4 separate regions of the Homo sapiens genome follow, and all the other regions are linked to region 4. Evidence: fine-mapped QTL for protein levels in blood plasma. A gene starts in region 4. Each other region holds a variant in brackets. All regions are shown on one strand. Distances are from middle to middle.

Region 1 (8,104 bases), 1.3 Mb after region 4:
AAAATTTTTTTTAGGCCGGGTGCGGTGGCTCACGCCTGTAATCCCAGCACTTTGGGAGGCCACAGTGGGCGGATTGCGAGGTCAGGAGATGGAGATCATCCTGGCTAACACAGTGAAACCCCGTCTCTACTAAAAATACAAAAAATTAGCTGGGTGTGGTGGCAGACGCCTGTAGTCCCAGCTACTCGGGAGACTGAGGCAGGAGAATGGCGTGAACCCGGGAGGCGGAGCTTGCAGTGAGCCCAGATCGCACCACTGCACTCCAGCCTGGGCGACAGAGCAAGACTCTGTCTCAAAAAAAAAAATTTTTTTTTTAATTCCACTGGCATAGACTTTGGTTACATTAATAAACTAGGTGATGGGGAATTACAGCGTTCCTGTTATGTGTTGGTCACTCAACATTTGGAGTTCAGTTTTGGATATAATCAAGTTTTATGAGGAGTTTGACATACTAGTGTTTTTAGAGAATGGTACTTAGGTATGGTAGATCTCTTAGAAACCAAGTAACTTATAAGGAGTGGTTGACAGAATTGGTAATTGGAGGAATCAAGGGGGGAAATTAATTGCAATATTTTAGAATAAGTAGTTTTTCCTTTTATATAGAAGAAGCAGCTGACTGGTTTGGTATTGCTCTAGCACAAGGGTGGCAAACTGTGGTCTAATCTCACTGACTGTTTTTGTAAATAAAATGTTAGAATGCAGCCATACCCATTTGTTTATGTGTGGCTGCTTTCACTGTAATAGCATGGTTGAGTAATTGTGACAGAGACCATATGGCCTGCAAGCCTAAGCTATTTACTATCTGGCCCTTTACGGAAAATGTTTACCAATTCTTGCTGTAGAAGCTACCAGGACCTATTGGTACAAATTGTAGGAAAGCTGGCAGTAGAACAGTGTAAGAGATTATTGTTTGCTTATTATTTTTTCTTTTTATAAGAGATGGGATCTTGCTGTGTTGCCTAGGCTGTTGTCAAACTCCTGAGCTCAAGCAGTCCTCCTGCCTCAGCCTCCCAGAGTGCTGAAATTATAGGCGTGAGCTACCATCCTTGGCCTTGTTTTATTTATTTATTTTTAAATAGGGTTATCAATCCTGGAATGGACATTTTATATAAGGTATTGGACCTTTTGTCTTCTATTGGATTTTTTTCAAGGTGAGAAGTTGGAGTAGATGATTTTTCATATCCAGATTTAAGGTGGAAAAAATAACCCAGTGCAGATGATATCAAGTAATTATTTTTCCTGTTTTTAAAAAATATATATTCATGTTTGATGATGCTATCCCTTTTGAATATTATTGTTAATTGTTAATTTTATTATATTTATTAATAGCGCATTATGGTGATGTAAGAGAATGTCCTTATTTTCAGGAGATGCATGCCGAGATAGTTGTAAGTGTGCAATGGCATTGTATTTGCAACTTATTCTGAGATAGTTTGGCAGAAAATAAGTACATACACATGTACACATATGTGACACAAATATGGCTAAATTAATTGAATATATTTCCCCATTTATATGAAAGCATTTTGTCCGGCCGGGTGCGGTGGCTTACGCCCGTAATCCCAGCACTTTGGGAGGCTGAAGTGGGTGGATCACCTGAGGTCAGGAGTTTGAGACAAGCCTGACCAATATGGTGAAACCCCGCCTCTACTAAAAATACAAAAATTATCTGGGCATGGTGGCAGGTGCCTGTAATCCCAGCTACTCAGCAGGCTGAGGCAGGAGAATCACTTGAACCCAGGAGACGGAGGTTGTAGTGAGCCGAGATTGCCACACTGCACTCCAACCTGGGCAGCAGAGTGAGACTCCGTCTCAAAAAAAAAAAAAATTAAATTGTATTTAAGAAGCATTTTGAGGCTGGGTGCGGTGGCTCACGCCTGTAATCCTAGCACTTTGGGAGGCCGAGGCGGGCGGATTGCTTAAGCACAGGAGTTCAAGACCAGCCTGGGCAACATGGTGAAACCCTGTCTCTACTAAAATACAAAAAATTAGCTAGGCGTGGTGGCATGTGCCTGTAGTCCCAGCTACTCGGGAGGCTGAGGCAGGAGAATTGCTTGAACCTGGGAGATGGAGGTTGCAGTGATCAGAGATCGTGCCATTGCACTCCAGCCTGGGCAACAGAGCGAGACTCCATCTCCAAAAAAAAGCATTTTGAGGTACTATTGAACAATTTATAATTTTCAGTACTAATTAATATTTCTCTACTATTAATATTTCTCTACTATTTTTATAAAAGTTTGGAAAAAAATTATGGACTGCAGAAAAGAGTAGACTTGACAGGCTGTGAAGGATGGGTGGGGCAGGATTAGGATAAGTAGACTGGTGAGAGTATTTCAGCTAAGGGGAGTCAAAAAGAATCACTTCTTGAAGTAGAGGAGTGTGATTCAGAAAAAAATTATTTCCTCTTTTGCCAAATGCTGATCATGATCATATAATTTTTTTTTAGAAAAAGAAGATGACTTGAAAAATAGAAATAAAACCTTTTAAAGAAATTTTCGTCATGTCTATATAAAATCCTACCATGTTCAAGGAATGCCTCTCACTTCATATCTCATTTAAACACACAGGTTTCCCTATTTGGATCCACCTAATGAGAGACTTATTTTAGAAGCTCTTAAACAACTTTACCAGTGTGATGCTATTGACAGGTAAAAAAAAAAAAAAAAAATCACAATCAAAACAGATATTGATCTCTTTTTAAACAGGGCTCTAAATACCTTTCTCTAACAGTAGAAAATAATTTCTTTAAATTGAATGGATTGTTAGTCTTTCATCACAATTCTGATTGAAAAACCAGCCGGGCGCTGTGGCTCATACCTGTAATCCCAGCACTTTGGGAGGCCGAGGTCGGTGGATCATGAGGTCAGGAGATCGAGACCATCCTGGCTAACATGGTGAAGCCCCGTCTCTACTAAAAATACAAAAACAAAATTAGCTGGGCGTGGTGGTGGGCGCCTGTAGTCCCAGCTACTCGGGAGGCTGAGGCAGGAGAATGGTGTGATCCTGGGAGGCAGAGCTTGCAGTGAGCCAAGATCATGCCACTGCACTCCAGCCTGGGCAACAGAGCGAAACTCCATCTGAAAAAAAAAAAAAGGAGAAAGAAACTGCACGGTATAATCCCTTTTGTTTAATAAATATTGGTATTATTTAACAAGTAATTTCTGAGTACCATTTCAGTGCTAAGCATTATGCTGGATACATAAAAATGATAAGAGAGCCAGAGTCCTTGTTTTCATGTTTGTGTGATGGGGTGGTTAGGTTTGATATTAATAATTATTATTCTCTTGGATGTGCGTGGTGGCTCACGCCTGTAATTCCAGCACTTTGGGAGGCCAAGGCGAGCAGATTGCTTGAGCCCAGTTGTTCGAGACAAGCCTGAGAAACATAGTAAAACCCATCTCTACTGAAAATACAAAAATTAGC[C/T]GATGGTGTTGGCACATGCCAGTAGTCCCAGCTACTTGGGAAGCTGAGGTGGGAGGATCGTCTGAGCTTCGGAGGTGAGGGGTGCAGTGAGCTGAGGAGATTGCGCCATTGCACTCCAGCCTGGGAGACGGAGCAAGACCCTGTCTCCAAAAAAAAAAAAACGGTAAAATTGAAAAAATAAAATTATTATTCTCTCATGTCTTCAAAGACATCTTCTTTTTTTTTGTTTTTTGAGACGGAGTTTTACTCTTGTTGCCCAGACTGGAGTACAATGGTGCAATCTCACCTCACTGCAATCTCCACCTCCCAGGTTCAAGCAATTCTCCTGCCTCAGCCTCCCAGGTAGCTGGGATTATAGGCATGCACCACCATGCCCAGGTAATTTTTTTATATTTTGGTAGAGATAGGGTTTCACCATGTTGGTCAGGCTGGTCTCAAACTCCTGACCTGAAGTGATCTACCTGCCTCGGCCTCCCAAAGTGCTGGGATTACAGGTGTAATCCCCCTCAGCCTCCTTAGTAGCTTTGCAACCTTTGCCTCCCGGGTTTGAGTGATTCTCCTGCCTCAGCCTCCCAAGTAGCAGGGACTACAGGCGCATGCCACCACACCCAGCTAATTTTTGTGTTTTTAGTGGAAACGGGGTTTTGCCATGTTGGCCAGGCAGGTCTTGAACTCCTGACCTCAGGTGATCCACCTGCCTCAGCTTCCCAAAGTGCTAGGATTACAGGCATGAGCCACCACGCCTGGCCTAATTTTCTTAAATTGAATTGAACTTCTGGAGGTGATTGGAGGTAACGTAAATTATATCTGATTTATTCTGAATGATGAATGTTACATTTGTACTCTCCTAGTGTAGAAAGACTTACAAACTTTTTCTTTGTATTAAGGAGTGGCCATGTCACCAGATTGGGTTTGTCTATGGTGGAGTTTCCTTTGCCTCCACATCTGACATGTGCAGTAATAAAAGCTGCTTCCCTGGATTGTGAAGATCTACTACTTCCAATAGCAGCAATGTTGTCTGTGGAAAACGTCTTCATTAGACCTGGTAAGATGTTTATTTTAAGTTGTGTTTTTTAAAACTAATAGACTTGGCTGGGCACGGTGGCTCACGCCTGTAATCCCATCACTTTGGGAGGGCAAGGCAGGTGGATTGCTTGAGGTCAGAAGTTGGAAGACCAGCCTTACCAACATGGTAAAACCCCATCTCTACTAAAAAAAAAAAAAAAAAAAAAACCAAAAACAAAATTAATAGACTTTATTTTTTAGAGCATTTTTAAGTTTACAGAAAAATTTAGTAGGAAGTACAGAGGGTTGACATTCATCCCCTCAACCTCCCACAGCAATTTCTCCTATTAACATCTTTGATTTGTATGACATATAAGTTGCAATTGGTGAGCCAATATTGACACATTATTATTAACTAAAGGGATCACTCTTTGTGTTATATGGTTTTAGCTGGGATTATAGGCATGTGCCACCACGCCTGGCTAATTCTGTATTTTTAGTAGAGGCGCGGTTTCTCCATGTTGGCCAGGCTGGTCTCGAACTCCTGACCTCAGGTCATCTGCCCGCCTTGGCCTCCCAAAGTGCTGGGATTACAGGCGTGAGCCAGCACGCCCAGCCGGGTTGTTTTCTTATTGTTAAGAGGTCTTTGCATATTTTAAATAGTTATTTAACAGATAGATCTTTTGTAAATATTTTCTCCCAGTCTGTGGTTTATCTTCTAATTGTTTTGACATTGACTTTTGCAGAGCGGAAGTTTTTATTTTTGACGAAGTCTACCTTATCAATTATTTCTTTCATAGATTGTGTCTTTATTGTTGTATCTAAAAAAGTCATTGTCGTACCCAAAGTCATCTAGATTTTCTCTTCTATTGTCTTTTAGTATTTGGACGTACAGTTGTTGCGGTACCATTTGTTCAAAACACTGTCCTTTTTCTGTTGAAATGCCTTCGCTTCTTTGTTAAATATCAGCTGACTATTCTTATATGGGTCTGTTTCTGGGCTCTGTATCTTGTTCCATTTATCTGATTGTCTGTTTGTTCTTCCACCAATACCACACTGTCCTGGTTATTGGAGCTTTATAGTAACTCTTGAAGTTTTGTTCTTCCTCTTCAAAATTGTTTAGGCCATTCTGGGTCTTTTTCATATAAACTTTAGAACCAGTCTGTTGAAATCCACAAAATAACTTGCTGAACTTGCTGGGATTTTTTTTTTTTTTTTTTTTTTTTGAGATGGAGTCTTGCTCTGTCACCCGGGCTGGAGTGCAGTGGCCTGATCTCGGCTCACTACAAGCTCTGCCTCCCAGATTCGTGCCGTTCTCTCGCCTCAGCCTCCCGAGTAGCTGGGACTACAGGCGCCCGCCACAACGCCCGGCTAATTTTTTGCATTTTTAGTAGAGACAGGGTTTCACTGTGTTAGCCAGGATGGTCTCAATCTCCTGACCTTGTGATCCACCCGCCTCAGCCTCCCAAAGTGCTGGGATTACAGGCGTGAGCCACCGCGCCCGGCCCTTGCTGGGATTTTAATTGGGATTATGTTTTAATTAAGATAGATTAAGTTGCGAAGAAATGACATCTTGACAGTATTGTCTTCCTATCCATGTACATGGAATATCTCTTCATTTATTTAGATTGCCAGTAATTCATTGAGCATTTACTGAGGGTTTACCGTGCCTTAGCCCTAGGACAGAAAACTAAGGATAAACAAGTTTTGTTGTTGTTGTTTTTGAGATGGAGTTTCACTCTTGTTGCCCAGGCTGGAGTGCAATGGTGTGATCTGGACTCACTGCAACCTCCTCCTCCCAGGTTCAAGCGATTCTTCTGCCTCAGCCTCCCAGGTAGCTGGGATTACAGGCATGGGCCACCACGCCTGGCTAATTTTTGTATTTTTAGTAGAGATGGGGTTTCACCATGTTGGTCAGGCTGGTCTGGAACTCCTGACCTCAGGTGATCTGCCTACCTTGGCCTTGGGATTGCAGGCATGAGCCACCACGCCCAGCCCGGCGTTAATTTCCTTTCATTAGTAAAGGAAGATAGTGCTTTTATAGTACATTAGTAATTTACTAATTTTTTTTTTGTAGGATCAAAAGAAAAGGTAGTTTAGCCCTTGCATCCTTAGAGAATTCTTTTGAAGTTTCCAGGTCTTTAAACTTCTGCTTCTTTCTTTTCTTGGTGTGTCAGTATAGGACACAATTTAATTTGACATATGTTAGATTTGTTTTCATGCAGTGGAGTAATTTTTTCTTTCAAGGAGCTTCCAAGTGAACAGTATACCTTGTCTGCAGCCAGACAACAGAATGGGTTAGCTCACTGGCTTTATACCTTTGTAGGCTGGAAGTGTCGGGTCCAGATTAATTTATTATTGCCATGATTATAATGGAGGATACATTTTTCTATAAAAATACTCTAATCAATATACTGTTTCAAATAGTTTGCAGTCTTTTTTTTTTAATTTAAAAAATTTTTAAATTTTATTGAGACAAGGTCTCACTGTGTTGCCCAGGCTGGAATGCAGTGGCGTGATCTTGGCTCATTGCAACCTCTGCCTTCCAGGCTCAAGTGATCCTCCCATACCTCAGCCTCCCCAGCAGCTGGGACCACAGATGCTTGCTACTATGCCTGGCTAATTTTTTGTATTTTTATACAGATGGGGTTTCACTCTGTTGCCCAGGCTGGTCTCAAACTCCTGAGCTCAAGTGACCCACCAGCCTTGGCCTCTTAAAATGCTGGTATTACAGGCCTGAGCCATTGCACCCAGCAGTTGCAGTCTGAAATGTCAGAATTTTAATTCTGGTAATACCCCTAATTGCAATTTTTTGTTCTAATAAAATGCTGTATAAAAATAAGTAATGTTAACTGGTTTTCATGAGGCAGTATCAGAGCTAAAAATACCAGTGGGCACAGTGGTATCCCAGCTCCTTGGGAGACTGAGGTGGGATGATTGCTTGAGCCCACGAGATCAGGGCCAGCCTGGGCAACATAGCAAGACCCCATCTCTGATAAGAAATTAAAAAATAGGCCAGGTGTGGTGGCTCACACTTGTAATCCCAGCACTTTGGGAGGCTGAGGCAGGTGGGTCACCTGAGGTCAGGAGTTTAAGACCAGCCTGGCCGACATGGTGAAACCCTGTCTCTACTAAAAATATAAAAATTAGCCAGGCGTGGCGTGCACCTGTGTTGCCAGCTACTGGGGAGGCTGAGGCGGAGAATTGCTTGAATCCAGGAGGCGGAGGTTGCAGTGAGCTGAGATCGTGCCACTGCACTCCAGCCTGGGTGACAGAGTGAGACTCCATCCCCAAAAAGAAAAAAGAAAGAAAGAAATAAACAAGCTAAAATATTTCAAAACCTATTACAGAGTATTGAAGTAGGAGTTAAGAGTGCAGGGTTCTGTCCAGCTCCACTACTACCTAATTATCTGACCATGGCCCTAGTTTTTCTAGATTTCATTTTTCATTTGTAAAACCAAGAAGTTGGATTAAGGTGACCAACTCTAATAGTCTTTTAAGGCTAGAAAAAGAAAAATGTTTTTTCCATGTTGGAATATTTAAATAGATAAAATCAGTGTGGTGTTAGCCTTTTTTGGGTGACATTTATTCTTATATAATTTCAAATAAGAATAGCAAAGGAATTCCTTTATACCTTCTATGCAGTTTCCGCAATTTTTAACATTTTACCCCCTTT
Region 2 (8,104 bases), 390 kb after region 4:
CAGCTCTGAGGCCTCTATGATTATTTGTGCCCCCTCATGGCTCTGATATCACAGGTACTAACAGACCCTTTTTCCTATGCTGGGAGAACTCCATTTCTGATGACCACATTGTCTACTCCAGTATTTTTGCCATTCATATTCTTGAATTTCTTTGCTGCTAATGATGAAAAACACCTGTTCTCAAGTCATTACTTACATGTAGCACATACTTCTCATTTACTGACAGCCACTTAAATGTTCAAGGTCCAGTCCGCTGGCCTAGCCACTGGGGATACTAAGAGGAATAATGCAGAGACTGAGTCTGCCTGCAATAAATAAGATCATAGTCTGTAGGGAAAACAGACTTGCCAGACCTATAAAAAGTTCAGCAGGGCCACATTACGATTTTGAAGGGCCCATACTTTTGCCTTTGTGTGCCTGCCTCCTCTGATAAAATATATACATTTCCATTAAAATATATGTTAAAAATGCTATCTTATGACTGCATTGATTAAAAGATGAATATATTATTATATATGACATTTTCTTCCACCTAAAAATTCATTTTTTTCTTCTGATTTTTAAAAGAAGTGCCCCTAGGCAGTGTGCCTGTGGTACGTAACAGATAAGGCCACCCTGGGTTCAGTGGCACTGAGTGGATCCCAGGCAGTTTGGAAGGGCTGAAGTATAAGTTTTCCAGGTAGATGAAGAAGGGCAGGGCAGGGAAGTGCATTCCAGGAAGAGCAGGCATGTAAGTTTGTGGAAGTAATACAGCAAGGCTCTCTGGAAACTTTAAAATAAGGAAACAGATTAAGTTAGAGCACTGCTTGTCCAGTGGAATATGATGTGGGCAACATTCGACATATTCAGTTGAACATTTTTAGTAGCTATATTATTATTTTTATTATTTTATATTTATAGAGATAGGGTCTCGCTATGCTGCCCAGTCTGGTCTTGAGCTCCTGGTCTCAAGCCATCCTCCTGCCTCAGCCTCCCAAAGTACTGGGATTACAAGCATGAGTCATCAGGCCCGGCCCACATGAAATTAACTTTATTATCATGTTTTGCCTGGGTGCAATGACTCATGCCTGAAATCCCAGCACTTTGGGAGGCTGAGGCAGGATGGCTTGAGGCCAGCAGTTGAAGATCAGCCTGACCAACTTGCCTAAACCCTGCCTCTACTAAAAATACAGTTAGCTTATTGTGGTCATGCGTGGCTGTAGTCCAGCTACTCTGAGGCTGAGGCATGAGAATTGCTTGAACCTGGGAGGCGGAGGTTGCAGTGAGCCGAGATCGCGCCACTGCACTCCAGCCTAGGCAACAGGGTGAGACTCTGTCTCATAAAAAACAAAAAACAAAAAAACCCACAACTCATTGCGTTTACCTCACTAAAGTTCCTAAGCATTAAATGATAGCAAGGTACAGCTTTAAACAGTAAGCAACGGTAACAACCCTGCAACCCCAAAGCATTCTTAAGAACCAAAAGAAACAATGAAAAAAAAAAATAAGGCTGGGCGCGGTGGCTCACGCCTATAATCCCAGCACTTTGGGAGGCCGAGGAGGGTGGATCACATGAGGTCAGGAGTTCAAGACCGGCCTGACCAACGTAGTGAAAACTCGTCTCTACTAAAAATACAAAAAACTAGCCACGCGTGGTGGCGGGTGCCTGTATTCCCAGCTCTACTCAGGAGGCTGAGGCAGGAGAATCGCTTCAACCTAGGAGGCGGAGGTTGCAGTGAGCCGAGATTGTGCCACTCAACTCCAGCCTGGGAGACGGCGAGACTCTGTCTCAAAAAAAAAAAAAAAAATTGGGTGCCATGGCTCACGCCTGTAATTCCAGCATTTTAGGAGGCTGAAGGTGTGGATCACTTGAGGACAAGAGTTCGAGACCAGCCTTGCCAACATGGTAAGACGCCATCTCTACTAAAAATGCAAAAATTAGCCAGGCATGGTGGTGCATGCCTGTAATGTAATCCCAGTTTCTAGGGAAGCTGAGACACGAGAATAGCTCGAACTCGGGAGGTGGAGGCTGCGGTGAGCCGAGATTGCTCCACTGCACTCCAGCCTGGAAAATAGAGCAAGACTGTGTCCCAAAAAAATAAATAAGGCAAAACCTAAAACAACCAAAGAAGGCTGAGCGCATGAATTCGGATGCCACTGCACTCCAGCCTAGATAAACAAAGTGAAACAAACCTTCCACGGCAAAAAAAAAAAAAAAAAAAAAAAAAAAAAGCAAAAGCTAATACACAACTAACAAAACTTGCATTTCAACTACCACAACCAGCAGCAAGTGCGAACGCAATCTCCCGCTACCACAAATTATACACTGTAGTTACCCACATTTGGGGAAATCGTAGGGATCAGCACAAAGTGCAACGAATAAGCCACACACAGGGAAAAACCACCTCCATAATCACAGTATTTCTCCTGACAGGTAATTATGAGGTACTTGCGTGACCCCAGCAATCCCCGGTGCCGCCCACATCATTGCAAGTGCGGGTAACTCCTGAAATGACTCTAATTGGACTTTATCCACATATAGTGAACAAAATAAACAGATTTTTTATACTATATCTTGGTGTTGGTAACAGAGTTGTGCAAATCCTTCCAAGGAACGCGTTTCCAAAATGCAGTCTTTAATCTACATACTCCACCTCCCGGCGTGACGTCATGCATAGGCCTGGCTGGTCAGAGAGCGCAACTGCGTTCTCATCTCGGCCCGCTTCCAACCAGCAGTTCCTTCTCCTGCTCGCGTCAATGCAAGTGACGTCTGTCAGGCCATTTTCCTGACAAAAACGCACCACCTCACTACTTTTGGCGTAGCCTAAGGCCTTCGGATCTCCCTGTATGGAGAGTTTCCTTGAGCTAACAGACGTGAATGAACTTTTAGTCACGGGATACCCACGCTGTGAACCACCCCGGCATCATTTCCTCTTATTCCAAGAAGGGGAACAGGGCATGCTAGCAGGCTGTACTGCAGAGTGGAGGGTTTTGGAATCCAAGATCTGGACTGCAATATAGCGTTCACAATGCAAGACTTTCGATGAGCTTATGGCCTCAACTTGTTCCTCAGTTTGTAAAACCTGCATTACTGTCCTTGGAGGAGTTTTTGTGAAGACTAAAACAAATACATTAACGAACAGCTTAAACCTTAAAGCATAATTATAACATGTGAGTCAGGCAACCCAATAAAAACCCTAAAGCAAACCAAGAAATACTAACAGCTAACATCTACTGTTTACCATGCATCTGGACTTTATGGTTAATCCTCACAACGTTGAGGTAGGAAATGGAATCATCCCCATTTCATGGATAAAGAACCTGAGGCATGACAAAGATTCTTTGCTGGCCGGGTGCAGTGGCTCACGCCTGTAATCCCAACACTTTGGGAGGCTGAGGTGGGCGAATCACTTGAGGTCAGGAGTTCGAGACCAGCCTGGCCAACATGGTGAAACCCTGTCTCTACTAAAAATACAAAAATTAGCCGGGCATGGTGGCAAGTGCCTGTAATCCCAGCTACTTGGGAGGCTGAGGCAGGAGAACTGCTTGAACCCGGGAGGCGAAGGTTGCAGTGAGGCAATGAGCCGTGATCATGCCACCGCACTCCAGCCTGGGCGACAGAGTGAGACTCTGGCTAAAAAAAAAAAAAAAAAAAGATTCTTTTCTTGTTTGCTTGGCCAAACCTTATTCAGGCTTCTGAACCTTCTCATAGGCCAGTCTGTGCATGTTCTTGTAAAATCCAGTTTTAGTAAAGGAACCCTGCTAAGTCAATTTAGCTGAAACCCAAATTCTCCAAATCTGATCAGGTTCCTCATCCTGCACCACCCCCCAGGTGATATCTGATCACCCCAGCCTGTCTTCAGCAAGAATCCTGTTAGATCAGTTTAGCCAGAATTCCTCTTACCCCTGATGTTTCCTCTTGGTAATTTTCTAACCACTGACCTCCACACTGCTCCTTGGCTACAAATTCCCATTTGCCCATGCTGTACTTTGGACTTGTGCCCAGTCTTTCTCCTCCACTACAAGACCCCATTGCAGCGGTCTCTATACCTATCCTGATGGTCCTGAACAAAGTCATCCTTACAGCAAAAAAGTGCACCTCTCCCAGCTACCAAAGCCTCTTCTACTGATGTGCCTGGAGGAGCTGCAGTAACTATAAACCCCTGCAAATGTGGAGGAAGTAACTGGAGCCTGGGTCCAGTCATGACTGTCTACTGAATCATCTTAGCCAATGCCCACTGAAGGCTCAGGGTGCTCCCAGCACAGGGAGAAGAACTTCACACACCTTAACTCATTTAATCCACTCAACAATTCTACAGAGTACACAATATCTCCATTTTGCATATGAGAAAACTGAGGCCAAGGGAGGCTGAAATGTGCCCAAGTGGTAGAGAAGGAATTAAAATCCATGTAGTCATCCCCAGAGAGGACTTCTTTTTTTTATTTTTATGCACACACAGACAAGGGTGACATCTACAGAAAATAATCTGGATCACCCAGAAAGCATGTGGCATCCTAGGTGAACTGCTATGCGAGGTAACTGGCCCAAGGGCTCTAGTCACCCACCCTAACATCCTACCCAAAGGCCCTGAGGACTGGGGGGTCAATATATTACATCACACAGTTTGAGAAGCTGTAGGGTGGAGACATTCTGGCAAGTGAGTGTCATTTGTTCCGGGTATATATCAAATTAGAAAAAAAGGCTGAGAACCACTGTTCTAGGTAGGCATAAAAAATGGAACCTGGCAATTATCAACACTGTATGAATGGAGGATTAGGGATACATCTGTATTGTGTAAAAAAGGGGGAGACAATGCCAGGCACAGTGGCTCATGCCTATAATCCCAGCACTTTGGGAGGGTGAGGTGGGCAGATCACCTGAGGTCAGGAGTTCAAGACCAGCCTGGCCAACATGGTGAAACCCCATCTCTACTAAAAATACAAAAATTAGCCAGGTATGGTGGTACAC[G/A]CCTCTAATTCCAGCTACTCAGGAGGCTGAGGCAGAAGAATGGCTTGAACCCAGGAGGCAGAGGTTGCAGTGAGCCGAGATCATGCCACTGCACTCCAGCCTGGGCGAAAGAGCGACACTCTGTCTCAAAAACAAACAAAAAAAAAAACAGGAGGGGGTGTGGAGAGGAGTTTGTCATATTTGCTGAAAGTCACCAGACGATGGCTAAAGAATGTAACAAGCCAGCTGCTGGGCGTGGTGGCTCACGCCTGTAATCCTGACACTTTCGGAGGCCGAGGTTAAGTGGATCATTTGAGGTCAGGAGTTCGAAACCAGCCTGACCAAAATGGTGAAACCCCATGTCTACTAAAAATACAAAAATTAGCCAGGTGTGGTGGCGCATGCCTGTAATCCCAGCTACTCAGGAGGCTGAGGCAGGTGAATCACTTGAACCTGGGAGGCAGAGGTTGCAGGGAGCTGAGATCACGCCACTGCACTCTAGACTGGGCAACAGAGAGAGACTCCGTCTCAAAAAAAAAAAAAAAAAAAAAAAGCCAGCAACAGCTTGAGACTTCATTGAGGTTTAGCAAGAAGCACCCTCATGTGAATACATGTTAACAAAATGTCAGGAAGGAGCATTGGTGCTGCTCTAATCTAATGTTACTCCCTTGCCCAAAGCCCTTCAATACTCCTTACTGCCCTCTGGATAAAGCACCAACTCCATCCCACGCTCCTTGAGGCTCTGCATGGGCTGGCTCCATAGCTTTTCCAGCCTGCCTGTACTGTCCACCATACCGCCGTGGCAGCCACAGCTACAGCCGCAGCCTCTTTCCAGCCTCAGAGCCTTTGCCTGTGTAGTTCCCCTTGCTTAAAATGTTTTTACCCTGCCTCTCCTGACAAATCTAACTTCTCTTCCCACGCTGAGCTCCCTCTGTTATCATAGTAAGAGTCCTTTAATTTCTCTTTTAGTCTTTATCTTCAGTCCATTCATTATTCCACTGTGTGATTATCAGTCAGTTTCCTGGGCTAGACTACAGACTGTCGAAGGACCTGAGAGTTTTCATCTGTCACTGCTGGAGTCTCAGGCTAGCAAAGTACCTGGCATGGAGATTTCTGCCTATCTATCCATCTATCTATAGGATGTGTGTGTGTAATGATTAGAAAGCTAAGAAATGTGATAGAAAAGGAGTGTGAGAAGCCTAAATAAACTTTGGGAAGATTAAAAAAAAAAACAACAAACAGCTTTGGGAAGGTAAGAATAAGGATCAGGGACCAAGAAACTAAATTCAGCCAGGAGCCGTGGCTCACGCTTGTAATCCCAGCACTTTGGGAGGCTGAAGTGGGTAGATCACTTGAGGTCAGGTGTTTGAGACCAGCCTGGCCAATATGGAGAAACCCATCTCTACTAAAAATACAAAAATTAGCTGGGTGTGGTGGCAGGCACCTGTAATCCCAGCTACTTGAGAGGCTGAGGCAGGATAATTGCTTGAACCCGGGAGGTGGAGGTTGCAGTGAGTCAAGATTGCGCCACTACACTCCAGCCTGGGCGACAGAGTGAGACTCCCTCTTAAAAAAAAAAAAAAAAAAAAAAAAAAAAGTGACTATACTTAATATATTCTTGAAAATTCCTGAAAGCATATGTTAAGCATCTTTACCACAATAAAATGATAGAAGTACATACAGTAATGCATATATTAATTAGCTCCCTGTAGCCATTCCACAATGTATAATACTTCAAAACAACGTGTACACAATAAATATATACAATTGGGACACTGATTACCATTACATGTCCAAATATTGCTTCCACTCCACCTTCTGGAACTCTCATTGCATTTATCTTGACCCTCTCATTCTATTCTCTATCTCTTTGAAACTTTCTTGCATTTTCCCATCTCTATATTTCTTTGAGCTACATCCTGGGTAATTTTTCAGATCTGTCTTCACTAATTCTGTCTTTGGCAGTGTCTGCTGCTTAACCCATTCACTAAGATTATTATTTCAATTATTGTAGTTTCATTTTGAGAAATGAATAGACTAGAGAGGGTTTCTTTTGTTTCTGCCTGGTGCTGGGGGACATCACCAAGCCAGGCTAAAGTAACTTTTTGTGCCATCCCCTAACATATACACATAGCAGTATGAATTCTGGCCCATTTTGAGGGACTGTGAATGTGAGATAGTGGTGAAGATTTCTCTGCCCCTTCCCATTCTCAGGCTGAGGCTGAGACCAGCACATATCTCTAACATCTTTCTCTTGGGGAGGGGGCATTCCTCAGAACTGAGAGTGTTCTTCTCCTGGGGTCGCAGCTTTATAGAATGAGGAGGGACTCTCTAGTCAGACCTCCCACCCAGCTCAGGCCCCAAGCTTTGTCTCCTGCCTGTGGTCCATTAAAAGCCAGCCCCAGAGCTTCTAAGGATGGCCAATGTCCTTAGGAAATAGACAGGGTCCATCCCTGCCTTTCCTTTCTGGATTTGTTTCTTTCTCTGGGTCTCTGTGGATTTCTCTTTTTGCTAGATCAGAAATATATTTTAAAAACTCGTTTTCTTGTTCTATTTTCTCACCATTTTACATGTTTTGAGCTTACAAAAGCCTTCCCTGGACCTCAGGTCTACTCACTGCCAGAGAAGCTCATCCCTCAATTCATCTAATCCTTTAGACTTTCCACGCCATTTCACTCACTAGGCCCCTAGCCCCATCTCTCACCTACTTCATGCTGCAGCACAGCGTATTTCCTCTATCTTAGAGGCTCCCAAACTTTTTGGCACCAGGGACCAGTTTCATGGAAGACAATTTTCCATTTCTCCACGGATAACAGGGGGTGGGTGGGAATGGTTTCAGGATGAAACTGTTCCACCTCAGCTCATCAGGCATTAGTTAGGTTCTCATAAGGAGTGTGCAACCTAGATCCCTGGCATGCTCAGTTCACAATAGGTTTCACGCTCCTATGAGAATCTAATGTGGCTGCTGATCTAACAGGAGGAGGTGCTCAGGCAGTAATGACATCACCTCCTGCTGTGCGGCCTAGTTCCTAACAGGCCACCAACTGGTACCATGCTCCTTCCAGGGGGTTGGAATCCCCTGCTCTAACTGGTCCTAGAGCCAATCAACAGTCATCTCCTCTACTCCCATTTCCCCAGCACTGCTGGAGAAAAAAAGTTGCAGAATCTTCCAGCACT
Region 3 (8,094 bases), 430 kb after region 4:
GAGGACCGCCTGAAGCCAGGAGTTTGAGACCAGCCTGAACAACAAAGCTTGACCCCATCTCTAAAAAAAAAAATACATAAAATAAGAATAATTGGCCGGGCACGGCGGCTCACATCTGTAATGCCAGCACTTTGGGAGACTGAGGTGGGCGGATCATGAGGTCAGGAGTTCGAGACCAGCCTGACCAACATGGTGAAACCCCATCTCTACTAAAAATACAAAAAATAGTCAGGCGTGGTGGCATGCCTGTAATCCCAGCTACTCAGGAGGCTGAGGCAGGGGAATCATTTGAACCCAGAAGGCGGAGGTTGCAGTGAGCCAAGATTGCGCCACTGCACTCCATCCTGGGCGAGAGAGCAACACTCCATCTCAAAAAAAAAAAAAAAAAAAAAGAAATTTTAAGTTATGTATGCTTTTTGTAAAAGAAAAAAAAAGTTCTAAACAATAAAAAATGTAGGAAGCGATTATTCATTACTCAGAGATTGTGTAAATATTGTTGTCTGGTGTAAATATTTTTGCAGACTTCATGCATATACAAACTTACGTTTTAGAAAATGAGGTCATAGGCCAGGTGTGGTGGCTCACGCCTGTAATCCCAGCACTTTGGGAGGCCAAGGCGGGCAGATCACGAGGTCAGGAGATCGAGACCATCCTGGCTAACACGGTGAAACCCCATCTCTACTAAAAATACAAAAAAGTAGCTAGGCTTGATGGCGGGCGCCTGTAATTTCAGCTACTCGGGAGGCTGAGGCAGGAGAATGGCATGAACCCGGGAGGCGGAGCTTGCAGTGAGCTGAGATACGCCACTGCACTCCAGCCTGGGCGACAGAGCAAGACTCCGTCTCAAAAAAAAAAGAAAATGAGGTCATGCCACCGCAGTGGCTCACGCCTGTAATCCCAGCACTTTGGGAGGCCAAGGTGGGAGGATCACTTGAGCCCATGAGTTTGAGACCAGCCTGGGAAATATAGTGAGACTTCATCGCTACAAATTTTTAAAAAAATCTTAGCCAAGCATAGTGGCATGCACCTATAGTTCTAGCTACTTAAGCGGCTGAGGTGGGAGTATTGCTTGAGGCTGGGAGGCAAAGGTTGCAGTGAGCTGAGATCGCACCACTGCACTCCAGCCTAGGCAGCAGAGCAAGACCCTGTCTTCAAAAACACAAAAAGAAATGAAAATGAGGTCATATTATACATGCTATTATGCAAAGCAGTTTTCTGTTTTTCACTTAATATATTGTGAACATCTTTCCATGTATACTACTTTTTTTTTCCATGTACACTACTTATAAGTCTGCTTTACACTAACAGCTGCATAGTATTTTGCTGTATGACTGTAGCATAGGTTTTTTTTGTATTTGTATTTGTTTTTGGGTTTTCTTTTTTATGAGACAGGGTCTCGCTCTGTCATCCAGGCTAGAGTGCAGTGGCATGATCTTGGTTCACTGTAGCCTCAATCTCCTGGGCTTAAGCAATCCTTTCACCTCAGCCTCTTGAGTAACTGAGACCACAGGCACACACCACCACACCCAGCCAATTTTTAAATTTTTTGTAGAGGCTGGGCACGGTGGCTCACACCTATAACCCACCACTGTGGGAGGCCAGGGCAAGCAGATCACTTGAGGTCAGGAGTTCAAGACCAGCCTTGCCAACATGGTGAAACCTTGTCTCTACTAATAATACAAAAATTAGCCAGGTGTGTTGGTGCTCACCTGTAGTCCTAGCTACTTGGGAGGCTGAGGCAGGAGAATCACTTGAACTCGGGAGGTGGAGGTTGCAGTGAGCCAAGATCACACTGTTGCACTCCAGCCTGGGAGACACAGTGAGACTCTAGCTCCAAAATAAATAAATAAATAAGTTTTTTGTAGAGATGAGGTCTCACTATGTTGCCTAGGCTGTTCTTGAACTCCTGGGCTTAAGGGATCCATCTGCTTCAGCCTTCCATAGGCATGAGCCACTGTGCCCACCCTGTAGCGTAGTTTTTTTAACCACCTCCTTATTGATGGTCTCTCTCTTTTTTTTTTTTCTGTTTTAGATAGAGTCTTCCTCTCTCACCCAGGTTGGAGTACAGTGTCACACTCTTGGCTCACTGCAGCCTCCACCTCCCAGGTTCCAGAGCTTCTCATTCCACAGTCTCCCGAATAGCTGGGATTACAGGCGTGCACCACCACACCTGGCTAATTTTTGTATTTTTAGTAGAGATGGGGTTTCACCATGTTGGCCAGGCTGGTCTCAAACTCCTGACCTCAAGTGATCGACCCTCCTCGGCCTCCCAAAGTGCTGGGATTACAGGTGTGAGCCACCACAGCTAGTCTAGAATAAATTTCTTAAAGTGAAAATATTAAGCCAAAGGAATCGATTTTTGAACATTTTGTTTTATGTTATAAAATTACCCTCAGAAACTATGCTCCAAAGTATGTCTCTACAGCAATGAATGGGAACTCTTGTTTTCCCATATCTTTACCAACTTTGGGTACCAGTCTTTTATTTATTTATTTATATCTTTGAGACGGAGTCTCGCTCTGTCGCCCAGGTTGGAGTGCCATGGCGCGATCTTGGCTCACTGCAACCTGTGCCTCCTGGGTTCAAGAGATTCTCCTGCCTCAGCCTCCCGAGTAGCTGGAACTACAGGCGCGTGCCACCATGCCCGGCTAATTTTTTATATTTTTAGTAGAGATGGGTTTCACTGTGTTAGCCAGGATGGTCTCGATCTCCTGACCTCGTGATCCACCCGCCTCAGCCTCCCAAAGTGCTGGGATTATACGCGTGAGCCACCACGCCCAGCTAGGTACCAGTCTTTTAAATCTTTGCCAAATTGATATGGAGAAAGTCCTTTAAAAATATGTTTTTTGGATTATTGGCATAATTTTTTAAACAGCCTTAATGACATATATGATTCATCCTTGCAGTGTGCACAATTCAGTGATTTTCAGTGTATCCACAGAGTTTTGCAAACATCACCACTGTATAATTTTAGAATATTTCCGTCATCCTAAAAAAGAAACCCCAACCTCACAGTGAATTTCAGAATATTTAAAATGTCTGCTCCTTCAGTGTCACGTTTCAAATCTCATGCAAATTTTTCTTGCGGTCAACTATAACTTTGTACCCTATGGAGAAAGTAATTCTGGTTCTGGGAAACACACAGTTCCAGATTATTAAAAAAAAAAAAACAAAAAAAAACAAAAAACCTCTTTTCAGCTGGGTGCAATAGCTCACCCCTGTAATTCCAGCACTTTGGGAGGCCAAGGTGGGTGGATCACCTGAGGTCAGGAGTTCACAACCAGCCTGGCCAACATGGTGAAACCCCATCTCTACTAAAAATACAAAAAAATTAGCCAGTTGTGGTGGCAGGTGCCTGTAATCCCAGCTACTCAGGAGGCTGAGGCAGGAGAATTGCTTGAACCCAGGAGGCGGAGGTTGCAGCAAGCCAGGACCGCGCCATTGCACTCCAGCCTGGGCAACAAGAGCGAAACTCTGTCTCAAAAAAAAAAAAAAAAAAAAACCCTTTTCATTAGCTGTCATTCTCTATTCTACCCTCCCCCAGTCCCTCACAACCACTAGTATGCTTTCTGTTTCTGTGAATTTGTCTTTTCTGGACATTTTATATAAGCAGATCATACAGTATATGGCCTTTTATGTCTGACTTCTTTCACTTAGCGTGATGTTTTCAAGGTTTATCTGTATTTTAGCACCCATCAGTATCTTTTTAATGACTAATTTTGCATTTTATGGATATATCACATTTTGTTTATCTGTTCATTGGTTGAAGGACATTGCATGGCAGAAATATTTTTAAAGCTCTGAAGTTCATAATTTCAAGTGATTGTTACTTTACTGTTTTAAACTTTTGACCTGGCATGGTGGCTCACGCCTGTAATCCCAGCACTTTGGGAGGCCAAGCTGGGTGGATCACCTGAGGTCAGGAGTTCGAGACCAGCCTGGCCAACATGGTGAAACTCTGTCTTTACTAAAAATACAAAATTTAGCCAAGCGTGGTGGGGGACACCTGTAATCCTAGCTACTTGGGAGGCTGAGGCAGGAAACTCTCTTGAACCCAGGAGGCAGAGGTTGCAGTGAGCCGAGGTCATGCCACTGCACTCCAGCCTGAGCAACAGAGCAAGACTCTGTCTCGAAAAAAAAAAAAAAAAGCACTTATTCTTTAGAAGCTTGGCATAATCACATACTAATTTTCAGTTGTATCATGGAGGCCAATCGTTTTGCAAAAGTAATATAATTGCTATATAAATATTTGCTAATAATGGAAATTCTAATTTTGGCATGTTGAATACCTGGTAAATCAGTAGTTTGATTTATATTTTCCTAAAGATACGTAGTGCGTAAACTAAGTACTCTCTCTAAACCAGCACTGTCCAGTAGATCTGATGGAAAGATGAAAATGTACAGTCTAGTACAGTAGCTGCATGACT[G/A]TTCAGCACTTGAAATATAGCTAATACTACTGAGCTACTGAATTTATGATTTTAATTTAACTTTTTTATTTATTTTTTTTGAGATGGAGTCTCACTCTGTCGCCCAGGCTGGAGTGCAGTGGCGCGATCTTGGCTCACTGCAACCTCCTCCTCCCGGGTTCACGCCATTCTCCTCCCTCAGCCTCCCTAGTAGCTGGGACTACAGGCGCATGCCACCATGCCCAGCTATTTTTTTGTATTTTTAGTCGAGACAGGGTTTCACCATGTTAGCCAGGATGGCTTTGATATCCTGACCTTGTGATCCTCCCACCTCTGCCTCCCAAAGTACTGGGATTACCGGCACAAGCCACCACGCCTGGCTTCTAATGTAACTTTTTTTTTTTTTTTTAAGACGGAGTCTCGCTCTGTCACCCAGGCTGGAGTGCAGTGGCGCGATCTTGGCTCACTGCAAGCTCTGCCTCCCGGGTTCACCATTCTCCTGCCTCTGCCTCCTGGGTTCACACCATTCTCCTGCCTCAGCCTCCTGAGTAGCTGGGACTACAGGCACACACCACCACGCCCGGCTAATTTTTTGTGTATTTTTAGTAGAGACGGGGTTTCACCGTGTTACCCAGGATGGTCTCGCTCTGACCTCGTGATCCGCCCGCCTCGGCCTCCCAAAGTGCTGGGATTACAGTCGTGAGCCACCGCACCTGGCTAATTTAACTTTTAAAAGCTACACCTGGGCCAGGCACAGTGGCTCATGCCTATAATCCCAGCACTTTGGGAGGCCAAGGTGGGAGGATCACTTGAGGCCAGGAGTTCGAAGTTAATCTGGGCAACATAGCAAAACCCTGTTTCTACAAATAATTTAAAAATTAGTTAGGCATGCCTATAGTTCTAGCTAGTAGAACTTGTGCTTGAACTATAGTTCTAGCTACTGGGGAAGCTAAGGCAGGAAGATTGTTTGAGTCCACAACTTCAAGGCTGCAGTAAGCTATGATTGTGTCATTGCCCCCCAGCCTGGGTGACAGAGTGAGACCCCATTTCTAAAAACTATTCTTAAGAAAAGCTGCCGGCCGGGTGTGGTGGCTCATGCCTGTAATCCTAGCACTTTGGGAGGCCGAGGTGGAGATCACCTGAGGTCAGGAGTTCGAGACCAGCCTGACCAACATGGAGAAACCCCGTCTTTACCAAAAATACAAGCTTAACCAGGCATGGTAGCTCACACCTGTAATCCCAGCTACTCATGAGGCTGAGGCAGGGGAATCGCTTGAACTCAGGAGGCGGAGGTTGCAGTGAGCCAAGATCATGCCATTGCACTCCAGCCTGAGCAACAGAGTGAGACCTTGTCTCAAAGAAAAAAAGAAAAAGAAAGAAAAGCTGCCAATTTAAATTCCTGCTTAGCTTTTTCTAAGGTGCCCGATGAGAGGTAACAAATGGAGAATGCCCTGTGGCATGTAAGGGGAGGGGAGCTAGAAGAAAATCATGTCATCCACTTGGTATCTAATTGAGATCTAGATGGATCACAGATTTCTCCTTTGCGGTGAAACAGAAATTTTAGGGTGTTACCACTGCAGTGGGAACAGCCAAACAACCTTTTTTCTTTCGCAGTTTTCTTTTTCTTTTTTTTTGAGTTGGAGTCTTGCTCCTGTTGCCCAGGCTGGAGCGCAATGGTGCAATATTGGCTCACTGCAACCTCTGCCTCCTGGATTTCAGTGATTCTCCTGTCTCAGCCTCCCGAGTAGCTGGGGTTACAGGTGCCCGCCCCAACGTTCGGCTAATTTTTTGTAATTTTGGTAGAGATGGGGTATCGCCATGTTGGCCTGGCTGGTCTCGAACTCCTGACCTCAGGTGATCTACCTGCCTCGGCCTCCCAAAGTGCTGGGATTATAGGCATGAGCCACCGCGCCTGGGCTGTTTCTCGGTTTTCTTACATAAAAAACTCATTTTCAGAGTAGACACCTTTTTCTTACTGCTTTTCATGGAATTTCATTATCAGTTTTAGTTTGCAATATTAACTCTTTTTTTCTGGAGGGAAGATATGTATTAGAAGAGTATATAAAGTAACCATTTCTGGAGATTTGGGGATGGAAAGATAACAGATCTGACTTCTGTGTTAAGTCAGCCTTAAACGCTTTTGTTTTCCCTGCTTTATTTAAAATTACTGTCTTTCAAAACCTGGAACCTTTTTTGTAGGTCAGTATTTATACAAAGAGAATTAGCAATATGAAACCTTGAGGGCCATCTGTGAGTTGCAAAGCAACACCTGTGGCTGTTAATAGCTGAGTAGCATAATCATAATTTGGAGTCATTTGACCTGACTACTAGGATTTTTTTTTTCCTAGTTCATCTACTTATATTGTACCTTCTTTATGAGTTTTAAGTCTCTTCTCATAATTTGTTGCCTCAGTTTCTTTTTTTCCTATAAAATTATAAACAGTAATACTATATTTGCTTCCTTCTTAAAAGTATAAACATTGAGGTATTTGTTAAGGATTTCATATTCCTTTCAATAAAAATATTCTAGGGAGGCAATAGTGATAAAGAACATGGACTCAGGCCAGGCACAGTGACACATGCTTATAATCCCGGCCCTTTGGGAGGCCGAGGTGGGTGGATCACTTGAGGTCAGGAGTTCGAGACCAGGCCGGCCAACATGGTAAAACCCCATCTTTACTAAAAATGCAAAAAATTAGCCAGGCATGGTGGCAGGCACCTGTAATCCTAGCTACTTGGGAGGCTGAGGCAGGAGAATAGCTTGAACCCGGGAGGCGGAGATTGCAGTGAGCCGAGATCGCGCCATTGCACTCCAGCCTGGGCAACAGAGCGAGACTCAGTCTTTCTTTTTTGAGACAAGGTCTTGCTTGGTCATCAGGCTGGGGTACGGTGACAGAATCATGGCTCACTGCTGCTTCAACCTCCTGGGCTCAACCAATTCTCCTGCCTCAGCCTCCTGAGTAGCTGGGACTACAGTTGTGCACCACCATGCCCAGCTAATTTTTTAAAAAGTTTTTTGTAGGTCAGGTACAGTGGCTTATGCCTGTAATCCCAGCATTTTGGGAGGCTGAGGCAGGAGGATTGTGTGAGCCCAGGAGTTCAAGATCAGCCTGGGCAACATAGCAAGACCCTGTCTCTTAAAAAAAAAGTTTTATGAGCTAGATGTGGCAAACACCTCTAGTCCCAGCTGTTCAAGAGGCTGAGGTGGGAGGATCATGTGAGTCTAGGACTTCAAGGACCACCTGGGCAACATAGCAAGACCCCATCTCTAAAGTATGAAAATAAAATACTTTATGATCAGTAGAATCATATTTTCAGGTAACTACATCTTTTTATGGGTGGATTTTTAATTTTTTTTTTTTTTTTTGAGATGGAGTCTCACTCTGTTGCCCAGGCTGGAGTGCAGTAGCGCTATCTCAGCTCACTGCAGGCTCTGCTCCCCGGGTTCACGCCATTCTCCTGTCTCAGCCTCCTGAGCAACTGGGACTACAGGCGCCCGCCACCACGCCCAGCTGATTTTTTATATTTTTAGTAGAGACAGGGTTTCACCGTGTTAGCCAGGATGGTCTCGATCTCCTGACCTCGTGATCCGCTCACCCTGTTAGCCAGGATGGTCTCGATCTCCTGACCTCGTGATTCGCCCGTCTTGGCCTCCCAAAGTGCTGGGATTTAAAATTTTTTATCAGAA
Region 4 (8,087 bases):
GGCAGAGGTTGCAGTGAGCCGAGACTGTGCCACTGTACTCAAGCCTGGGTGACAGAGTGAGATTCCGTCTTAGAAAAAAAAAAAACACTGGAAAATGTCTGGTCATGGCTGCCATCACTGCCCCAATTGTGTCTCCAAAACTGCCAATTGTTTACATTTAAAATCCCATCATCTCTTATTATGGGTAATTAAGATGCGCAGGAGGGGATATTTTGGAGCAGTGTGGTCCAACTCAACCTTCCGAGATGATGAAAATATTTTACATCTGTGCCACCCAATAGGGGGAGCCACTAGACTGTAAGGCAATTGAGCATTTGAAATGTGGTTAGCACCGCTGAGAAACTGGGTTTATTTAATTTAAAATAACTAAAATTAAAATAGCCACATGCAGCTAGTGGCTACCACATTGGATAGTGTCGCTCTAGAGGGTGAGGGCACCACAGCGTTCTCTGTCCTTTAGTTCCCTGCCCCTGAGGGATTTGACTCTCTTGTCTTCCAGAGTCCAGAAGGGAAAAAAGGGACAGAGAAAGCAATGGACTGATGGACAGAGGCTCCTCAGCCATGCCTGGGTCTCCATCTTAGGGTTGGAGAGGTTGTTTGCTTTTCTGCTTTTCTGGCTCCATCTGACTTGTTACCAAGGCAACTGGATTAATATCATGAAGTTGATAGTAATGGCTGGTGAGGACAGTCTCTCTAAGTACAAACCCACAAGCTGCTCACAAACAGACTCACTGTGGCTCCAACAGGGAACATCTCCTATGCCACCTCTGGTCCCCACCCCAAAGCTGACCTGCCAGGAAGCAGGGGATGCGCGCTGAGCGGTTGGTGAGGAGACAGGGGTCATCGTGCAGGTTGTCAAAGGGCAGCAGGGCCCGGCCGTTGTCTTGGAAGCGCTGGTTGACGGCCAGCAGCCCCAGCTGGTTGGACATGTTGCGCAGGTTCCTGGCCAGGGGCTCCTCGCTGCCGTACACCATGCTGGCGTCCACGAAGGAAGTGAGCGCGTTGATCTGGTTGCGGATGGTGATGTTGCTCCCGGGGCAAGCCGGGCAGGAGCGGAAGAACGGGATGCAGTCGGCTTGGTTCTTGATGCGGGGGTCATTGGGCGGGATCTGAGGCACAGAGAGAGGCTAGACTGGCTCACCGAGGGCAAGGAAGGTGCCCAGGCAGAACTGGATCTCCCCCTGCCCTCAGGACCTCTGGTACCCTCAACCTGCAGAGAGGCCTCCGGAGGCCCGAAAGGGATCGCTGCCTAGGGCGCCATCAGCAACAGCCTCTGAGGTGCAGGGTTAATGAGCAGAACACTGAACTGGGAACCTGGGCAACCCCTGGGTCTGGGCACCGCCAGGCCTCGGATCCCTCCTCACTAAAGCGTCGCCCGTCTCTCTCCCCTTCTCTCTGCTGTGCCTGCTCTCCCTCTGGCCCTGACATTCTCCTGTCTGTCTCTCCCTCTCTCAGGCGCTCTCTCCTTTCTCTCCTCCTCCTTCCCTACTCAGCAGTGCCTCGACCACCCTGCCCACTCCCAGCCCTGTCCCACGGCACCCACCAGACCCCCAGGCTCTCTCTTTCTGTGTGATGGGGGTTGGGGCTGCCCTCTCAGTGGGGCGGAAACAGGACTGAGCATGGAGGCTTGGGGGGCACTGAGAAGGTCTCCTCCCAGAACCCTCTCCCAACCTAACAAAGAGCCAGTGATTCCACCAACAGGACTCCTGTCAGCCAAGGAGGAACAACCCTCTCTCCCTTGGCCTGCCAGAGGCAGTGAGCAAATGGACGGCCCTGGCTGCCAGCTGGCTGAGCCCAGGCGCAGGAAGGAGACAGGTCATAGCTGAGCAGCCAGTGCTGTGGACACAAGGGAGGCAGGGCCAGCCTTCCTCAGCGTCTGGGAAAGGAAACCTGGGCACAGAAGGGAGATGGCCCCTTCCAGAAACAATCTCCCCTCTCCCAACCCAGGCAGTGGGCGGGAAGCAGGGCCACCTTGAGCGGGAAGCAGGGCGGCTGCTGAACGCAGCTGGTCTCGCAGTTGACGCCAGTGACGAAGGAGGCCCGGGCGGCCGGCTCAGGGGTGAAGTCGAGGTCGTGGTCCAACAGCTGGCCCCATTGCATGAACATGAGTGAGCGCTCCTGGTCCGGAGTCAGCTGATCAGTGGGGAAGCGCACGATCTCGTTGGAGACCGCGCGAGCCTGCGGGACACGGAGATCAGCTGGCGCCTGGGTCCGCGCACCGCGTGGCCGGGCCTCGCCCCCTCTGCCCGCCGGCGCTCACCAGAGCCACCGGGAAGCCGTTGCGCTTGACCCCGGGCGTCCAGCCGTAGGGAAGAGAGAAGCCGTCCTCATACTCCGCCGGCAGCCAGCGCACAAAGGCACGGTTGGAGGCCCCCAGCGTGGGGCTGCGTCTGCAGGGGAGGACAGGGCGCTGACACCGGGAGGCTTGTGGCGTCCGGGACGCCTCTCTGAGCCCGGTTCCTGCAGCCACCCCCAGCCAGCCGCACCTGTTGTTGCACATCCCGGTGATGGTGCGGTATTTGTCCTGCTCCGGGCAAGTCACCCCCACGTCCTGGTAGGCGCAGCCGCTTGACTTGGACAACACATTCAGCTGGGCGGGCGTCAGCACATCTGCCGGGGGAAAGAACAATGGGGGAGCTGAGCCGCCTCACTTCCTATCCCAGGCAACCTGAGGCTGAGGAGCCCTGGAGACTCCTGAGACTCCCTGGAGGAAGAAGTTGAGGGGATCACTGAGAGACGGCTGGGGTCCCTAGGAGGAGTCACTAGTGGAGCAGGGACCTGGGGTGTGATGGGCAACAGTACCAGTGACATTGAATGGCCTTCGCCACAGGGACCGCAGCTTCCTCTCCAGCAGGTCTAGAGCCACGTGCAGGTAGTCAGCGGCCCTCACCGCCGTCCTGGTGGCTGCCACCGGCTGCTTGAAGTAGGATAGGAGTTCCATGGGGCTGGCTGAGCCGCTGCGAAGCCGCTGCTTGATGCTGCTTGGAGAAAGGAGGAGTGAGGGCCAGAGAAGGGATACAGACCCACCCAGCAGAGCCCCAGCCCAGGGGCAGACATGCAGGACCATGCAGGCAGGCCCACGGGTGGGAGGAAGGCTTCCTTTTATAAAAAGGATATGGACCTGGGTGTCCAGACAGAGGCAAGGCTTTGGGAAGGATGGCTTTTAAGCTGTTCTCCCATCCAGAAACACAGGGACAGACAGACAGAAAGGGAGTCCACATGGGTCCCCATAGTCCCCCTCTCCCACCTTCAAGCTCCCTGCTGCCTGCTGCTTCTCTGAAAGGCCTGGGACATCCTTGCCCAGAGCTGGGCAGTGCCTCGTGCCCCACCTTTCCCGCCGCTCCTTGTAGGCCTTGTCCACCAGCTGCTTGGCCTCCTCCATGGAGCTCAGCACCAACGAGGTGTCCACCTCCCCCAGGACAGCTGCCCAGAGCAGGGATCACAAAGTCAGGAATGGGCCCCAACCCCCTATCAGGCCCCAGAGCTAGGAAGGCCTGCTCTGAGAAAAGGGGTCTCTGGAACACAACCACCCCAACACACCATCTTCTCCCACCTTGGGAACTGTTACCTGGAGCAGCACCTTCAGAGGGCTGGGGCGTGGCCAGAATGGCCAGGAGCCCTGCTAGGGCCAGAAGCAGCTTCATCTCTGCAGTGAGACCCCCAGCCCAGCAAGGTCCTAAGTCCACCATGCATCTGAGAGAAGAGAAGAAGGGAACCCCCATCTCTCTTCTCCTGGGCTGCTCAATCCCCCTTTGTACCTCAGCCCCACCTCAGAGGGCCCTGTCTATGGATAAAGCCAGACCTCCTTGAGGGAGGGGCTCACTGCTCTCTTATCCCCTTGCCAGCTGCTGTCATCCAGCTTCCAAGGACCCCACCTCCACAGCTCACCTGATATTGTCAGCTCCTCTTAGCTCAATCTGCGCTTTTATGTCCTCTAAGCTGGGGGTGGGGTGAGGTAGAGGAAGGTCTGATCCTGGAGACTGAACTCTTTCTCCTCCCCCACTGGGGTTGGAAGGTACACACAGAGGGGCCCCTGAAATGGGGGGAAGGGGCAGGAAAGGAGGGGCCAGCATTGTCCCCAGCCTTTTTTTTTTTTTTTTTTGAGACGTTATCTTGCTCTGTTGCCCAGGCTGATGTGCAATGGTTCAAGCGATTCTTCTGCCTCAGCCTCCCGAGTAGCTGGGATTACAGGTGCCCGCCACCACGCCCTAGCCTCTAGCCACATCATCAATTATTTCCTTAGGCAAGAAGTAATTTTTGTATTTTTCCTTAGGCAAGAAGCTAATTTTTGTATTTTTAGTAGATACAGGGTTTCACCATGTTGGCCAGGCTGGTCTTGAACTCCTGACCTCAAGTGATCCACCCGCCTCAGCCTCCCAAAGTGCTGGGATTACAGGCATGAGCCACTGGCCCCAGCCTGTCCCCAGCCTTTGAATTTAGCACTACCAGCCCAAGATTTCTCAGCTCACCATTGTGTGCCTATACCAGTGCTTGTCCCCAGGGGATACACACAACTAACCCCTCTGAAATTCTGGTTACACTGGTTATCCAGGGTTCCTTTGAAAGGAACAAAAGTCAGGAACTGGTAGCCCAAGGAATTGCAGGGAATAGAGTGCCCCCAGGGAAGACAGGAGGATGAAAGGGAGACCTGGAGTAAAGATGACCCAATTGGCCTCAGGTGGCCATCCCCCACTCCAACAGTAACCTGCATCCAACAGCCACCCAATGGGCAGCCTCTGGTTCTTGGTGGGGCTAAGGGGACAGGAAATCTGGCTGGAGACCGTTGGGCTTCACAGGAAGGAGGACCCTGGGGACTGTGGGCGCAGGACCAAGATAACTTCCTCTATCCCTCCTCACTCCCCTTTCTTCTTGGCTTCTGGTAGAGGGCTGTCTCCAAACTCCTCCTCCCCACCACCATCTGCTCCTGGATTTCAGGAACCAGGAGAGAGCAGAACTGGTTGTGGTTAGTGATCAGTTAGGTGATGCAGCCCAGGGCCTCTCTGGGACAGGATCAGTGCAGTTGGGAGGACTTGGGTTAATGATTCAGAATAATTCTGAAACAGAAGAGGATATTTCTTGCTTGAGAAAGCCCAGCAAAAGGGCCACCAATCTCAGCAGGAAAAGTACTACGACTTTTGACTGAATCAGTCTACCTCTCTGGGCCCTGGTCAGGCTGAGCTCGTGCCAACCATGCCTCCCATGTCCCATTTAGGTTCCCCCTCCTACCTTCAGCCACCTTCCCGCCACCCACTCTTTTTTTTTTTTTTTTTTTTTGAGACAGGGTCTCTCACTGTTGGCGGAGCTGGAGTACAGTGGTGCAATCTCGGCTCACTGCAACCTCTGCCTCCTGGGTTCAAGCAATTCTCCTGCCTCAGCCTCCCAAGTAGCTGGGATTACAGGCGCCCGCCACCATGCCCGGCTAATATTTTGTATTTTTAGTAGAGATGGGGTTTCAACATGTTGGCCAGGCTGGTCTCAAACTCCTGACCTCCTCCTGATCCACCCACTGTTGGGATTACAGGCGTGAGCCACCGCGCCCGGCCCACTCTTGTCTTCTATGCCCAGACCACCTCTTGGCCAAGGGACAAGGGACAGCAACACCCAGAATATCTTCCCAGTGTGTCCAGGGATTCTGTCCCCTGCTGAGAAGGGGAACCAAGCTTTTGCCCTGCCAGTGACTTGCTGTGTGTGAAGTTGGTCGAGTGGCTCTTTGTGAATCAAGCTCTAGAATTTTAGAGGCTTTTGGAAATGATTTTTCAATCCTTTAAGTAATATAATTTTCACTGATGAAAAGTTTGAGAACACGAGTATGCAAAAATAAAAATAAATCAAAATTACTCATCATCAAGTGAGATTGTGGGTACTTTTTTCTTTCAAGGTTTATCATTGTCTTCACATAAATAAACAATAGGAAGGAAAATAATTGCCCATAATCCCACCACTCACCAATACCTCATTTAAGAATTTGATATCCTATATGTAAACATAATATATATTTTTAAATATTGATAAGAAGAACTTTAAATATTGTTTTACCATCTACTTTCGGTACTTAACAATTTTAGTCTGAGCATCTCCCTGTGTCAATAAATACAGGTTTACTTCATTTTTATGTCTGTATAATATTTCATATAACTATTTTATATGATTTATTAACTAATTCTATCTCATTAGATACTTAGAGTTGTTTCTGATTTTCATTATTATAAGTAGTACTAGGATAAGCATCCATGGAGTTAAATCTCTCGCCACATCGTCAATTATTTCCTTAGGCAAGAAGTAAAATTCCTGCGTATTTGGGTATGCGTGTTTTAGGGCTTTTTAATATTGATAGTCAAATGGCCTGCTGAAGATTTTACCTCATCCTCCCATCAGCCATGCATGAGAGCACCTGTCCCCTGTCACCCTTGTCAACCTTGAGTATGCTTGAGTGTCCTTTCGCTCTTTTAAGGGAATTGTCAAGGCTCAACAGGGGAGAGATATTTAATGCAAGCCCCTTATTGTAGAGCTGAGAAAGAAGGAGCCCAGGGAAGGAAACGACTTGACCAAGGTCAGCAGTGTGACACAGTTCAGAATAATCTCCATGCCCAGTCTCCTGACTTCCAAACCAGTGCTCTTTACCCAGTAGCCTCTGGACACCTGTTCCTGACCTTTCATTCAATGATTTCTTCAACAAGTATTTACTGAGCCCTTGTCATTCAATGATTCCTTCAACAAGTATTTACTGAGCCCTTGTCAGGTGCTGCGCTGGGCATTGAGCATTCTCCACTGAGCAAAGCATGAGCCTTATCCTCAAGGAGCTCACAGAGGGGAGCAGAAAGGCAAACAAATGGCACCCCCAGAACCAATGCAGGGACCTTAGGGAGCAGCGAAGAGCAGCACTTGGATCAACTGGGGGAGGTCAGTGAAGGCTTTCTTGAGGAATTGATTCTGGAGACTGTCTTGAAGAATGTCTCAAAGCTGACCAAGTAGACACAGAGGAAGAGCATTCTGGGCCCAGAGAATGACACTGTCGGCTTCACTCAGTTCCAACACAGGGAGAGGGTGGACAGGGTGAGGCTGGTGGGCCAAGCAGAGGCCCAGGATGCAACATTCTCGCAGACCTACTGAGAAATTATTGTCCCGAAGCCCCAGGGAGTCATGAGGTCTGTGAAGCGGAAGTGCATGGTCCAAGTTACTTTGGAGAGCTCACCTGCTCTGGTTGCAGTGTGGACAGTGCGCTGGAAAGGCAGGCCCAGACACAGAGACCTGGCAGGCAGCATGTCAGCGATTCACCTGTTAAGAGGCTTGCTCTGCTTCCTCACAGGCAGCAATCAGGCCAGGAGTGTTTGAAAATACTTCTCCAAGAACGACGTTTAAACTCCCTGAGTGCTCCACCCACATAGAGGTGAGAGCACTCCCAAGATGTGGATTCCCCAAAGCCCCTGTCTTTGGCCCGGGGGTGGGTCTGGGGATGCACATGTGTGTGCCAGGGCTAGAGATGTTCTATGACTTGACATGTTTTCAACCAATTAATAATGACCCACCTGAGGTTATCCCAAGGTGGTCAGCCTCTCCTGTCTGCACCTCTGTCGTTCCCTCATCTAGGCCCTATTTGTCGGGCCAGGTGTGTTTGAGGCTCAAAGCTCTTCTCAGCATGCAGAGTAACCAGGGGAATGCAGCTCAAGGGAGTGGGAGGGATTTCAAATAAGCTTTGTCCCATGTGAGTTACCCGCCAGTCCCCTTCCTGGGGGTAGGCTCTGGAGGGCACTGCTGGGACTGCTACATCTCAAGACTATAGTCATTTGAGAGAGCTCCCCGCCTCCAACACACTCACACCCCACTGCCGTCTCTTCTGCCCACTTAGAGTTCCCAAATATCCCCACCCCCAGGGTGAAGCCCAGCTGCTGGTGGGATAACGGGCCCTCTCTGCTACTGCTTGCAAAACAGCATGTTGTTTCTTAATGCTGTTTAAGAAATAATTCAGTTGGGATTTCAGCCTGATTTCCTGTGTGTGGTTGGAGAGAAAGAGGCACCCCCAGAAGGCTATGGAAGCTGGGGAGATGGCAGAGGCAGCGGCTGCTTAGACAAACCAGTTTTACTCAGCC

Which allele goes with the higher level. Positions count from the first base shown, and alleles are read on the strand shown. Strength reflects both the effect of a copy and how common the allele is.
For the plasma level of the protein whose gene starts at base 3,899 in region 4, T is the low allele of the variant in region 1 and C is the other (weak association).
As copies of A replace G in region 2, the plasma level of the protein whose gene starts at base 3,899 in region 4 goes down (weak association).
With allele G in place of A in region 3, the plasma level of the protein whose gene starts at base 3,899 in region 4 is higher (moderate association).

What was found. A credible set is the group of variants that fine-mapping cannot tell apart. PIP is the posterior inclusion probability: the model's chance that the variant is causal. Protein levels are from antibody-based Olink assays in UK Biobank. Linkage for the fine-mapping came from a reference panel and not from the study's own genotypes, which makes the PIPs less certain.
Region 1: its variant is the best candidate, but not a certain one, in a credible set for the plasma level of the MPO protein (UK Biobank, PIP 0.90).
Region 2: its variant is the best candidate, but not a certain one, in a credible set for the plasma level of the MPO protein (UK Biobank, PIP 0.73).
Region 3: its variant is the best candidate, but not a certain one, in a credible set for the plasma level of the MPO protein (UK Biobank, PIP 0.75).

Annotation. Positions count from the first base shown.
Region 1 is chr17:59,583,586-59,591,689 of GRCh38, forward strand. It overlaps DHX40 (DEAH-box helicase 40), which reads left to right. Exons shown (of 18, transcript NM_024612.5): 11 at 2,568-2,648; 12 at 4,311-4,468. Among named protein-coding and RNA genes, the nearest start is that of DHX40, 22 kb to the left of the region's middle. The variant C/T (reference allele first, on the strand shown) is at 3,424.
Region 2 is chr17:58,664,277-58,672,380 of GRCh38, forward strand. The region is part of intron 1 of TEX14 (testis expressed 14, intercellular bridge forming factor); the gene reads right to left. All of the region lies in intron 1 of IGBP1C (IGBP1 family member C), which reads right to left. It also overlaps the pseudogene RNU1-108P. Among named protein-coding and RNA genes, the nearest start is that of IGBP1C, 24 kb to the right of the region's middle. RefSeq lists an enhancer at 5,060-5,109. The variant G/A (reference allele first, on the strand shown) is at 4,949.
Region 3 is chr17:58,711,974-58,720,067 of GRCh38, forward strand. All of the region lies in intron 5 of RAD51C (RAD51 paralog C), which reads left to right. Among named protein-coding and RNA genes, the nearest start is that of RAD51C, 23 kb to the left of the region's middle. The variant G/A (reference allele first, on the strand shown) is at 4,428.
Region 4 is chr17:58,277,037-58,285,123 of GRCh38, forward strand. MPO (myeloperoxidase) reads right to left here and starts at 3,899. Exons shown (of 12, transcript NM_000250.2): 1 at 3,569-3,899; 2 at 3,330-3,423; 3 at 2,803-2,978; 4 at 2,487-2,610; 5 at 2,261-2,390; 6 at 1,972-2,178; 7 at 791-1,109. The coding sequence starts at 3,722. RefSeq lists enhancers at 1-426, 1,558-2,247, 4,832-4,849, 7,226-7,841, 7,754-8,010 and promoters at 3,889-4,483, 3,889-4,029, 4,422-4,823, 4,708-4,933, 4,979-5,179.